Linked DNA regions of Homo sapiens: region 1 is linked to region 2. The links come from fine-mapping of genetic effects on gene expression. A gene starts in region 2. The other region holds a variant in brackets. All regions are shown on one strand. Distances are from middle to middle.

What was found.
Region 1: its variant is fine-mapped to the expression of SH3RF2 in subcutaneous fat (FUSION, PIP 0.95).

What each region holds. Positions count from the first base shown.
Region 1 is chr5:145,875,123-145,880,500 of GRCh38, reverse strand. It overlaps a transcript of GRXCR2 not described here. Among named protein-coding and RNA genes, the nearest start is that of GRXCR2, 4.8 kb to the right of the region's middle. The variant G/A (reference allele first, on the strand shown) is at 2,727.
Region 2 is chr5:145,933,192-145,938,569 of GRCh38, reverse strand. It overlaps SH3RF2 (SH3 domain containing ring finger 2), which reads right to left and starts at 1,992. Exons shown (of 10, transcript NM_152550.4): 1 at 1,876-1,992; 2 at 264-747. The coding sequence starts at 641. LOC107986458 (a long non-coding RNA gene) reads left to right here. Exons shown (of 4, transcript XR_001742913.2): 4 at 2,807-2,869. RefSeq lists an enhancer at 1,677-2,254.

The DNA.
Region 1 (5,378 bases), 58 kb after region 2:
CAGAGATTCTTCTGTCTTGGGAGGGTGAATGTGTCCAGGAATTTATCCATTTCTTCTAGATTTTCTAGTTTATTTGCATAGACGTGTTTATGGTATTTTCTGATGATAGCTTGTATTTCTGTGGGATTGGTGGTGACATCCCTTTTATCATTTTTTATTGCATCTATTTGATTCTTCTCTCTTTTCTTCTTTATTAGTCTTGCTAGCGGTCTATCAATTTTGTTGATCTTTTCGAAAAAACAGCTCCTGGATTCATTGATTTTTTGAAGGGTTTTTTTTGTGTCTCTATCTCTCTCAGTTCTGCTCTGATCTTAGTTATTTCTTGCCTTCTGGTAGCTTTTGAATTTGTTTGCTCTTTCTTCTCTAGTTCTTTCAATTGTGATGTTAGGGTGTTGATTTTAGATCTTTCCTGCTTTCTCTTGTGGGCATTTAGTGCTATAAATTTCCCTCTACACACTGCTTTAAATGTGTCCCAGAGATTCTGGTACGTTGTGTCTTTGCTCTCATTGATTTCAAAGAACATCTTTATTTCTGCCTTCATTTCGTTATTTACCCAGTAGTTGTTCAGGAGCAGGTTGTTCAGTTTCCATGTAGTTGTGCGGTTTTGAGTGAGTTTCTTAATCCTGAGTTCAAATTTGATTGCACTGTGATCTGAGAGACAGTTTGTGATTTCTGTTCTTTTATGTTTGCTGAGGAGTGCTTTAGTTATGTGGTCAATTTTAGAATAAGTGCAATGTGGTGCTGAGAAGAATGTATATTCTGTTGATTTGGGGTAGAGAGTTCTGTAGATGTCTATTAGGCCCGCTTGGTGCAGAGCTGAGTTCAAGTCCTGGATATCCTTGTTAACCTTCTGTCTCATTAATCTGTCTAATATTGACAGTGGGGTGTTAAAATCTCCCATTATTATTGTGTGGGAATCTAAGTCTCTTTGTCCGTCTCTAAGGACTTGCTTTATCAATCTGGTTGTTCCTGTATTGGGTGCATATATATTTAGGATAGTTAGCTCTTCTTGTTGAATTGATCCCTTTACCATTATGTAATGGCCTTCTTTGTCTCTTTTGATCTTTGTAGGTTTAAAGTCTATTTTATCAGAGACTAGGATTACAACCCCTGCTTTTTTTTTTTTTTTTGCTGTGCATTTGCTTGGTAGATCTTCCTCCATCCCTTTATTTTGAGCCTATGTGTGTCTCTGCACGTGAGATGGGTCTCCTGAATACAGCACACTGATGGGTCTTGACTCTTTATCCAATTTGCCAGTCTGTGTCTTTTAATTTGAGCATTTAGCCTATTTACATTTAAGGTTGATATTGTTTTGTGTGAATTTGATCCTGTCATTATGATGTTAGCTGGCTATTTTGCCTGTTAATTGATGCAGTTTCTTCATAGCATTGATGGTCTTTACAATTTGGCATGTTTTTGCAGGGGCTGGTACTGGTTATTTCTTTCCATGTTTAGTGCTTCCTTCTGGAGTTCTTGTAAGGCAGGCTTGGTAGTGACAAAATCTCTCAGCATTTGCTTGTCTGTAAAGATTTTATTTCTCCTTCACTTTTGAAGCTTAGTTTGGCTGGATATGAAATTCTGGGTTGAAAATTTTCTTTAAGAATGTTGAATATTGGCCCCCACTCTCTTCTGGCTTGTAGGGTTTCTGCCAAGAGATCCACTGTTTGTCTGATGGGCTTCCCTTTATGGGTAACCTGACCTTTCTGTCTGGCTGCCCTTACCATTCTTTCCTTCATTTCTGCCTTGGTGTATCTGACAATTATGTGTTTTGAGGTTGCTCTTCTCGAGGAGTATCTTTGTGTTATTCTCTGTATTTCCTGAATTTGAATGTTGGCCTGCCTTGCTAGGTTGGGGAAGTTCTCCTGGATGATATCCTGCAGAGTGTTTTCCAACTTGGTTCTATTCTCCCCATCAATTTCAGGTACACCTATCAAATGTCGATTTGGTCTTTTCACATAGTCCCATATTTCTCGGAGGCTTTGTTCATTTCTTTCTACTCTTTTTTCTCTAACCTTGTCTTGTCACTTCATTTCATTAATTTGATCTTCAATCACTGATACCCTTTCCTCCACTTGATTGAATCAAGTATTGAAGCTTGTGCATGTGTCATGAAGTTCTCATGCCATGGTTTTCAGCTCCATCAGGTCATTTAAGGTCTTCTCTACACTGTTTATTCTAGTTAACCATTCGTCTAACCTTTTTTCAAGGTTTTTATCTTCCTTGCAATGGGTTTGAGCATGTTCCTTTAGCTCGGAGAAGTTTGTTATTACCAGCCTTCTGAAGCCTACTTCTGTCAACTCATCAAAGTCATTCTCCATCCAGCTTTGATCCGTTGCTGGTGAGAAGGTGTGATCCTTTGGAGGAGAAGAGCACTGTGGTTTTTAGAATTTTCAGCTTTTCTGCTCTGGTTTCTCCCCATCTTTGTGGTTTTATCTACCTTTGGTCTTTGATGTTCGTGACCTACAGATGGGGTTTTGGTGTAGATGTCCTTTTTGTTGATGTTGGTGCTATTTCTTTCTGTTTGTTAGTTTTCCTTCTAACAGTCAGGTCTCTCAGCTGCAGGTCTGTTGGAGTTTGCTGGAGGTCCACTCCAGACCCTGTTTGCCTGGGTATCACCAGCAGATGCTGCAGAACAGCAAAGATTGCAGAACAGCAAATATTGCTGCCTCATCCTTCCTCTGGAAGCTTCATCCCAGAGGGGCACCCACCTATATGAGGTGTCTGTC[G/A]GCCCCTACTGGGAATGCCCCGCCCTGCTTTGGCTCACCCTCCATGGGCTGCACCCACTGTCCAACCAGTCTCAATGAGATGAACCAGGTACCTCAGTTTGAAATGCAGAAATCACATGTCTTCTGCGTTGATCACTTTGGGAGCTGCAGACTGGAGCTGTTCCTATTCGGCCATCTTGGAACAGATCTCTTCTATACAGTTTTATAATATAAATTCTATGTCACAGAACATAAAATCTGTTATATCTTTTCCTACTTAATTTGTATCATAAATCTGTTTCCATATTATTTTCTTATTATTTCCATATGAGGCAGGAGAATCACTTTAACCTGGGAGGCAGAGGTTGCAGTGAGCCAAGATTGCACCACTGCATTCCAGCCTGGCAACAGGGTGAGACTCTGTCTGAAAAAAAAAAAAAAGAATAGTGAAGAGGTAGTATCAGAAGATTTTTTTTTTAATCGACCTTTCTACTAAGGACAAGTGTCTCCTCTCCTTTTTTTTGTTAACCTTTTAAAAATGTCTACATAATTTTTCATATTGTGTCATTGCTATTGTTGAACATTTAAGTTGTTTTCAATTTTTTTCCCAGTATGAATAATATTTAGGGGAGTATCTTTAAATAAATATCTTTCTTTCTTTAAAATGATTTTCTGAAGAGAAATAATTGGGTAGAAAGCAATGGATTTTTTTCATTTATTTTATTCTTGCTTATCAAAGTAAGACAAACTTATCACAGACAAGTAAAATATGATTAAACTGGGAAAGAAAAAAAAACACTCAAAATCCTCCACCCAGTTGCCAGAGTCAACTGATACTAGCATTTTGCCATGATTTCTTTGGATATATGGAGCTACAGTATTTTCTTTCTTAGGAGGTTTCAAGGATATAAATATTTTTAAGGCTTTTGATAATACTGCCAAAACTGCTTTCGATTTATCAATTTGTTCTTCTTCTTGAAGTGTATTTGTGACTATTCTGGAAACACCAACGTCTGAAAATTTTCAGATGAACATGGTTGTTTCAAAACTTCCCATGATTTTAGGTTGGCTCACTGAAAATCTGTCTGTGAACATGGGAAATGGCATAAAAAAGTGTTGAAGAAATGTTACTTGGAAAACTCACCTCCAGCTTTGTTTTTGTTGTTGTTACTGACATTCATTTTGGGGCAATTGAAAATGTTTACTTGACAAGTAGTTGTGGAAGTCAGCTCACTGGTTTTTCTAGATGAAGATAGGCTATTGGTTATTTATTAATATTTGTTTCCTGGGAGAGATAGAAGAAAATATTCTTCTAGTTAGGAGTTCCCAATCTTTTTCATGGCATGGCACACATAGAAAATAATAATTGTTGCATGCCTTGGTCTCAGCTACTCAGGAGGCTGAGGAGGGAGGATTGCTTGAGCCCAGGAGGCAGAGGTTGCAGTGAGCTAAGGTTGCACCCCTGCACTCCAACCTGGGCGACAGAGCAAGACCCTGTCTCAAAAAAAAAAAAAGGAAAATAATAATTGTTACATTTATATGTGTGTGTTTGTGTGTGTGGGTATGTGTGTGTGTGTGTATATATATATATATATATATATATACACACACACACATACAATTTTTTAAGAGATAGGGTCTCACTTTGTCAACCAGGCTGGAGTGCAGTGGCATAATTGTAGCTGGCTTTAGCCTCAAACTCCTGGGCTCAAGCAATCCTCTTGCCTCAGCCTCCTGAGTAGCTGGGACTACAGACAAGCACCACCATGCCCAGATAATTTTTAAAAAACTTTTTGTAGAGACAAAGTCTCATTTTGTTGCCCAGGCTGGTCTCAAACTCTTTGGCTCAAGCAACCCTCCTGCCTCAGCCTCCTGAGTAGCTGGGATTACAGATGTGGGCCACCATGCCCAGCTTGATATTGTTCTATACAGTGAAGTAAATGAATAAGGCTAATGTAGTCCTGGGGGACACCTGGCTGCCATGAGGGCTGAGAGTTCAAGGTCTCAGTCTCCTGTGATTCATTGATGGTGTGTCCCAGACAACTCTGCATCCTGGGGGAGTTACAATGTTATGAAAAGTGTATCTTTCTTTTTCTTTAAACATTGTTTCCCTAGTTCTTCTCTCCCACCTATTTCTGTACCAGTTACACAGGGAATTTACAACTGTGACACCTCTCCTTAGTAGAAAGGTAGATTAAAAAAAAAATCTTCTGATCCTACCTCTTCACTATTCTTTATTTATTTTTTTTTGATGGAGTCTCGCTCTGTCACCAGGCTGGAGTGCAGTGGTGCAATCCTGGCTCACTGCAACCTCTGCCTCCTGGCTTCAAGTGATTCTCCTGCTCTAGCCTCCCGAGTAGCTGGGACTATAAGTGCCTGCCACCACACCCTGCTAATTTTTGTATTTTTGGTAGAGATGAGGTTTCACTATGTTGGCCAGGATGGTCTTAATCTCTTGACCTCGTGATCCACCTGCCTCGGCCCTTCCAAAGTGCTGGGATTACAGGCGTGAGCCACCGCGCCCAGCCACCTCTTCACTATTCTATACAAAATATGCTCAATTCCTTTTTGAAAAGCTTTGTGTATTTGGTTTCTCTCACTTGAAGTCATTCATTTAACAATTACTGAGTTCTATTATGTACTGGGCACTTTGATAAACACTGGGAATAGACA
Region 2 (5,378 bases):
TTCCTTGTTCTACTACTTTCTGGACTAGAGGAAAGGAGAACCTAGGAAGCTTTAATAGTTCTAAAGAGAATTCTTAGATGGATTAGATAGGCTCAGGTTTTCATTGTATTTGAGTAAAATGATCACTGCCCACAGAAACTTATCACTGGGAAATCAACAGCAGCACTCTGGAATGTAACTAAAAGAAGATAATCTCTAGCTCCTTGTATACACAAATCCAACCTCTATGTGGACATGATATTAGCAAATAAGATCTCTCTTACCCCATCCATGTGGATTCTGACATTAGGCACTAGCCGGAAAGGACTGGCCTGCAGACGTCTGGGGTTGGTCCTGCTTTTCCTGCCATCCTGCAAGGTCATCGTGCCAGGCCTGCGGAAGGAGCCCCCTCTCCCGGAGCTCTGCCCTGAGCGCACTCCATCCAGAAGGCGCACGAGCAGCAGGTTGGCCGGCAGCGCCTCAATGTTGGAAAACACAGGCGTCCTGCATTCGGGGCACCGCAGCTCTTTGTGGGCCTTGAAAACCCTCTGTAGACATGGTTTGCAGAAGGTGTGCTGGCAAGGGAGGACTTTGGCTGTGACATCGAGCTTCTCAAAGCACACAGGGCACTCCAGAAGATCAAGTAACGTCAAATCATCCATTTTATTTCAAAACTCCAGTTCCCACCTGGAGGAGCAGCGTCCACATGGTAGGGTCAGTTGAGCCACGGGGGCAGAGCTGGTCTCTTGAGAACGTCAGAATTTTTGCCTGCTTGAAGGAGGGAGAGGAGAGAAAAAAAAATGTGACTGCTCCGAGAGGTATATCCCACCTACATTGAGGCAGTGTCTCATAAGGCAGTTTGCAAGTACTTTGTTCCGGCACCCAAGTTTCAAATGACTCATTCTGATTCAATGCTAGCAGGTATAAGACTCAACTCGTGCTTGCTGTGAGGATCAGAGGGAACATTCAGCACAAGACTGACTGCTTATTGCCTATGTGGACAGGAAAGCAGGGAGATAAACTGGCCTGCTGAAGTGGCCCCCCAACCCCTCTCTACCAGCCAGGGCGGGAAGAGGTCCTTTACCCCCTGCCCGGGGAAAGCTCCTGGACAGTCTCAATTCTTACAACAAAGCCCCCTCCGAACGCAATTTCTGTGAAGCTATCTCCTCCTCCTCCTTCCCCTAAATCTAAATGTATCTATTATCTGCACCACATGCAGATTAGTTTAGGTGGGTAAGTTTATCTGAATCTCATGCAGATGTAGAATTATTTCCTTCACAATATACCTTCCCACATGATTCTAGCAATGTACAAGAAAAATTTCCACTAGAAACCCATTTCCAAAAATTGTTTTGCCTTAACCACAGGTCAGGGTGCTTGGAAGCTTTGTTTCTTTTCTTTTTTCATCTTTTTTTTTTTTTCTCTCCTCATCCCGATTACCTTAGGCTCAGAGACAATGTTCCTCCCACAAGGTAAAGTAGTGCAGCCTGTTTAGTTACTTTGACATTGTTCTCAATTTCAAATGAAGCAGATAGGAATTCTGGATTGTGGTCACGACCTGTAAAAACCGTACTGGGGCAGCATATACAGGTAGGGGTCGTGTGTGTGTGTACTCTGAAAACAGTACTTGTTCCAGAAACAAGTTTCCTTTTGGATGTATGAAAAGAAGCCTCCAGTTTAGAAAAGTCTGGAAGAAGTCAGCTGTCCCTCACAAGTGCCAGGGCTTCGGTAAGCACCGAGCCCAGAGGTTTGGCGAGAAGGCCAGTGGCCCCACTAGCGACTAGTAAGCAGGACAGACACGACCGAGAATGAGCGATGGCGCCTCGCCTTCCTAAGCCTCCTCTCCAAAGATGTCAGCGCGGCAGCGGGCTGGGGAGGCGTGTGGGGGCCACTAACCTTGTGCATGTAACTTCTGCTGAGTTCAGCTCAGCCCCCTCCTCCGCGCAGCAGGGGTGCGCTGCGCCCTCCAACCGGCTTCCTTTCCTCCAAGCGCCGCTGCTGCCAACCGCTTTGAAAACTTTAACCACTCAGTCTTACTCATTTCAAGGGATCGCCTTACCCAGCCCTGTTAACGCTTTCACTGCCAGGGCGCTGCCTACTTACCACGCTTTTGTTGTTGCAGTTGTTAACTTTATGATCTTTCCTTCAGTTTACTGAATTGCTTCTGGGAAAAGATTGTAAGAGGTAAAATATAAGCCAGTCCCTAAGGCCAAGTATTTACAAAGTTCATATTTTCACCTTTCCCGTTTTCTGTAGTATCCAAGGAGTCAGAACCTGCTCCATTATAAACATACCAAAGTGATTGTGTTTATTTTAAATCTTCATAAGGATTTCCTGGGAAGGTCAAAAGTAAAAATGGTCAAGCTATGAAAACAAGGATAAGTCGGACACCTAGAAAATATTGCTCTTTGAAAATCATAGTCAATCTCTGAATTTAGAGATAAGAGGGACTTTAGTGATCTTTTTGCTCAATCTGTTTAAATTAAAAAACTAGTGTCACGTATATACACATACGTGAAAAATCAAAGCACAGAGAAGCTTTTTCAAAAAAGGAAAAGCAGTGGCCTCCAAGCTCTCCTCCTGCCTGTTATCCACTGTAGTCTTTTCATATCCTCAGATTATGCCTATATTTCTATTTTTTGATTTATCGATAATACATTTCATGTAAAATTACAAAGGTATCCGATTAAGTGAATAATAACAATCTTAATGCCAGGGTAGTCCTTATCTGTGTCAACCACTGTTCTAAATACCTTACCTGTGTTAGCCCTTTAACCCCTTAACAACCCAAGGAGACACTAAACTATTCTTTACTTTCATCTTGCAGATGAGGGAACTTGAGACACAGAGAGGATAAATAACTCATCTCGGGAGTCACAGCTAGCAGAAGGCAAGTGGGCTGTGCTCTTAACAATGTCATGGAGTGATATAACTTTAAGAGGCTGGCCAGGCGCAGTGGCTCATGCCTGTAATCCCAACACTTTGGGAGGCCGACGTGGGCAGATCACAAGGTCAGGAGATCAAGACCATCCTGACCAACATGGTGAAACCTCATTTCTACTAAAAATACAAAAATTAGCTGGGCATGGTGGTGCGCACCTGAAGTCCCAGCTACTCAGGAGGCTGAGGCAGGAGAATCGCTTGAACCTGGGAGGCGGAGGCTGGAGTGAGCTGAGATCGTGCCACTGCACTCCAGCCAGGGCGACAAAAAAAAAAAAAAAAAAAAAGAGGTGAAGAGGTGGTTCAAGGGAGCTAAGCCTCCCCTAAGAGGGCAAGAGGTCAAAAGATAATGGACAAAACTGGCTACTCACTTTCTCTTACAGATGAGGCAGCTGTGCCCAGAAAGATCAAGGGATTCTTTGAAGTTGTCCAGTGAGTTAGGGGCAGAATTGGGACTAGAAACTAGGTGTTTGAGGCCAGGCGCGGTGACTCATGCCTGTAATCCCAGCACTTTGGAAGGCTGAGGTGTGGGTGGATTGCTTGAGGTCAGGAGTTTGAGACCAGCCTGGCCAACATGGTGAAGCCCGATCTCTACTAAAAATGCAAAAATTAGCTGGGTGTGTTGGCTGGGAGTGCTTGGGAGGCTGAAGCACAAGAATCACTTGAACCTGGGAGGTGGAGGCTGCAGTGAGCTGAGATTGTGCCATTGCACTCCAGCCTGGGCGACTAAGACTCCGTCTCAAAAAAAAAAAAAAAAAAAAAGAGAAAGAAACTGGGTGTTCTTTTTAAAATTATTGTTATTACTATATCTTCTCTCTAGACGTAAGGATGACAATTATTTATTATGCAGAGAGTGTTCAGACACAGCTCAATGGGAAAATCTTAAGAGGAGACCAGGAGGTCTGAAAACATTGTTTACATATTTTTCCACGTTCTTTCATGTTAGTTCCAAAACATCAAACATGCATGTGGCCCAGAACTTTAGGATGGAGCCGATGGTTATCTATTTTCTGAGCACGGAGGCCTAATTTTGATGTAGGACAATTTCAGAGACCACTTTCAACTATTACTTTTTTAACGTCACTTTTGAGCTTTGATAACATCACATCCCATTCTGCTTGCCTGTCTCCTTCTATTAATTTCTACTCTTGAGTCTGTGCCACTAAGGAAGCTCTTGAGGTTTACTGTCCTCTTACTCTGTTTCCCACTTAGTAAAGCTGAGTCAGTTTCCTTTGTGCCCTGCAGTGGTCTCACTCCGTAAAAAGGGCCACTCCTATGCTGGAACTCCTGTTGCAGAGATTGGCGATATTTTTCATTATTCTTTCTCTTGTTCTTAAACACACTCTATCTCCCTTACATACTCATATCTGCACCTATATGCAGATGCATGCATACACTTGTGTAAGGGTGCACACATACATAATCTTAATAATAGTAACACCTATGGAGCACTTGCTGTATGCCACTGACCAATGCTAAGATTTTAAACATATTATCTCATTGAATTCTCCCAACCACCCCGTAAGATACTGTAACTTTCCCAGGGTTACAAACCTTGTGATCTGAACTCAGGTTGGTCTAATCCCGGGGCCTGTGTTTCTTTTCATTTTATAAAATCATGTACATATCATAAGTACACCCATGTATCTTTACTATTTAAATCTGCACATGGTTACACATATACCCATATTGTACACACCAGCTGATCTCAGAGCCAACCCAAGACAAAATATTGATGTCAGAAAAGGAGATTGGGCCCCTCTGGGTTGTAGTCTACCCATCTCATGGCCCCTCCACACCCCTGTATGGTCAATGGTCTTAAAAGCTTCAAACCTTCCCATCCCTGAGAAAATGCAGTCAAACCAGCTCAGTCCCAGGAAGGCAGACTAGATCCAGTGGGTTACTCTTGTAGCAAATCTGGCAATTGAAAATCCAGCCAAGTAGAATCGTGATGGTAGAATTTTAGGTTCTAATGGAGGACAGAGAAAAGGTACACTGAAGCGAGGGGTCATCTTTCAGCACCTCTCAAACGACGCCCTGTAGGTGGTCCCCAACACCACCCACATGAGGTTAGTCTTGAAGAGAAAATTTCTTGAAACTTTTAAAGAAGGGCGAGAGTTTTAAATGGGGATTTGTTCTGGCTTACCCAAATACTACCTTGGCATCAAATCAGATGAACATGTAGTCTTTAAAAACAAACAAAAAGGTGAACTATGCATACCTCTTCAGACTCCAGGCCACCTCCCTTCTCCCGCTGTTCCCACCCCACCAACACTCCTGTTTCTATCTGTATAGTTATGGGGTGATGATTGGCTGCATTCTTTTAAAAAATCTGTATGATATGTCTGACCTTCTGCTGTGCATATTTATGAGTACATTTAGATTTATGTATATAAAACACACAAACAAGCAAACCTGGTCTTATTGTTTCCCTAGTCAAAACTCTTCAGTAGGTTTCC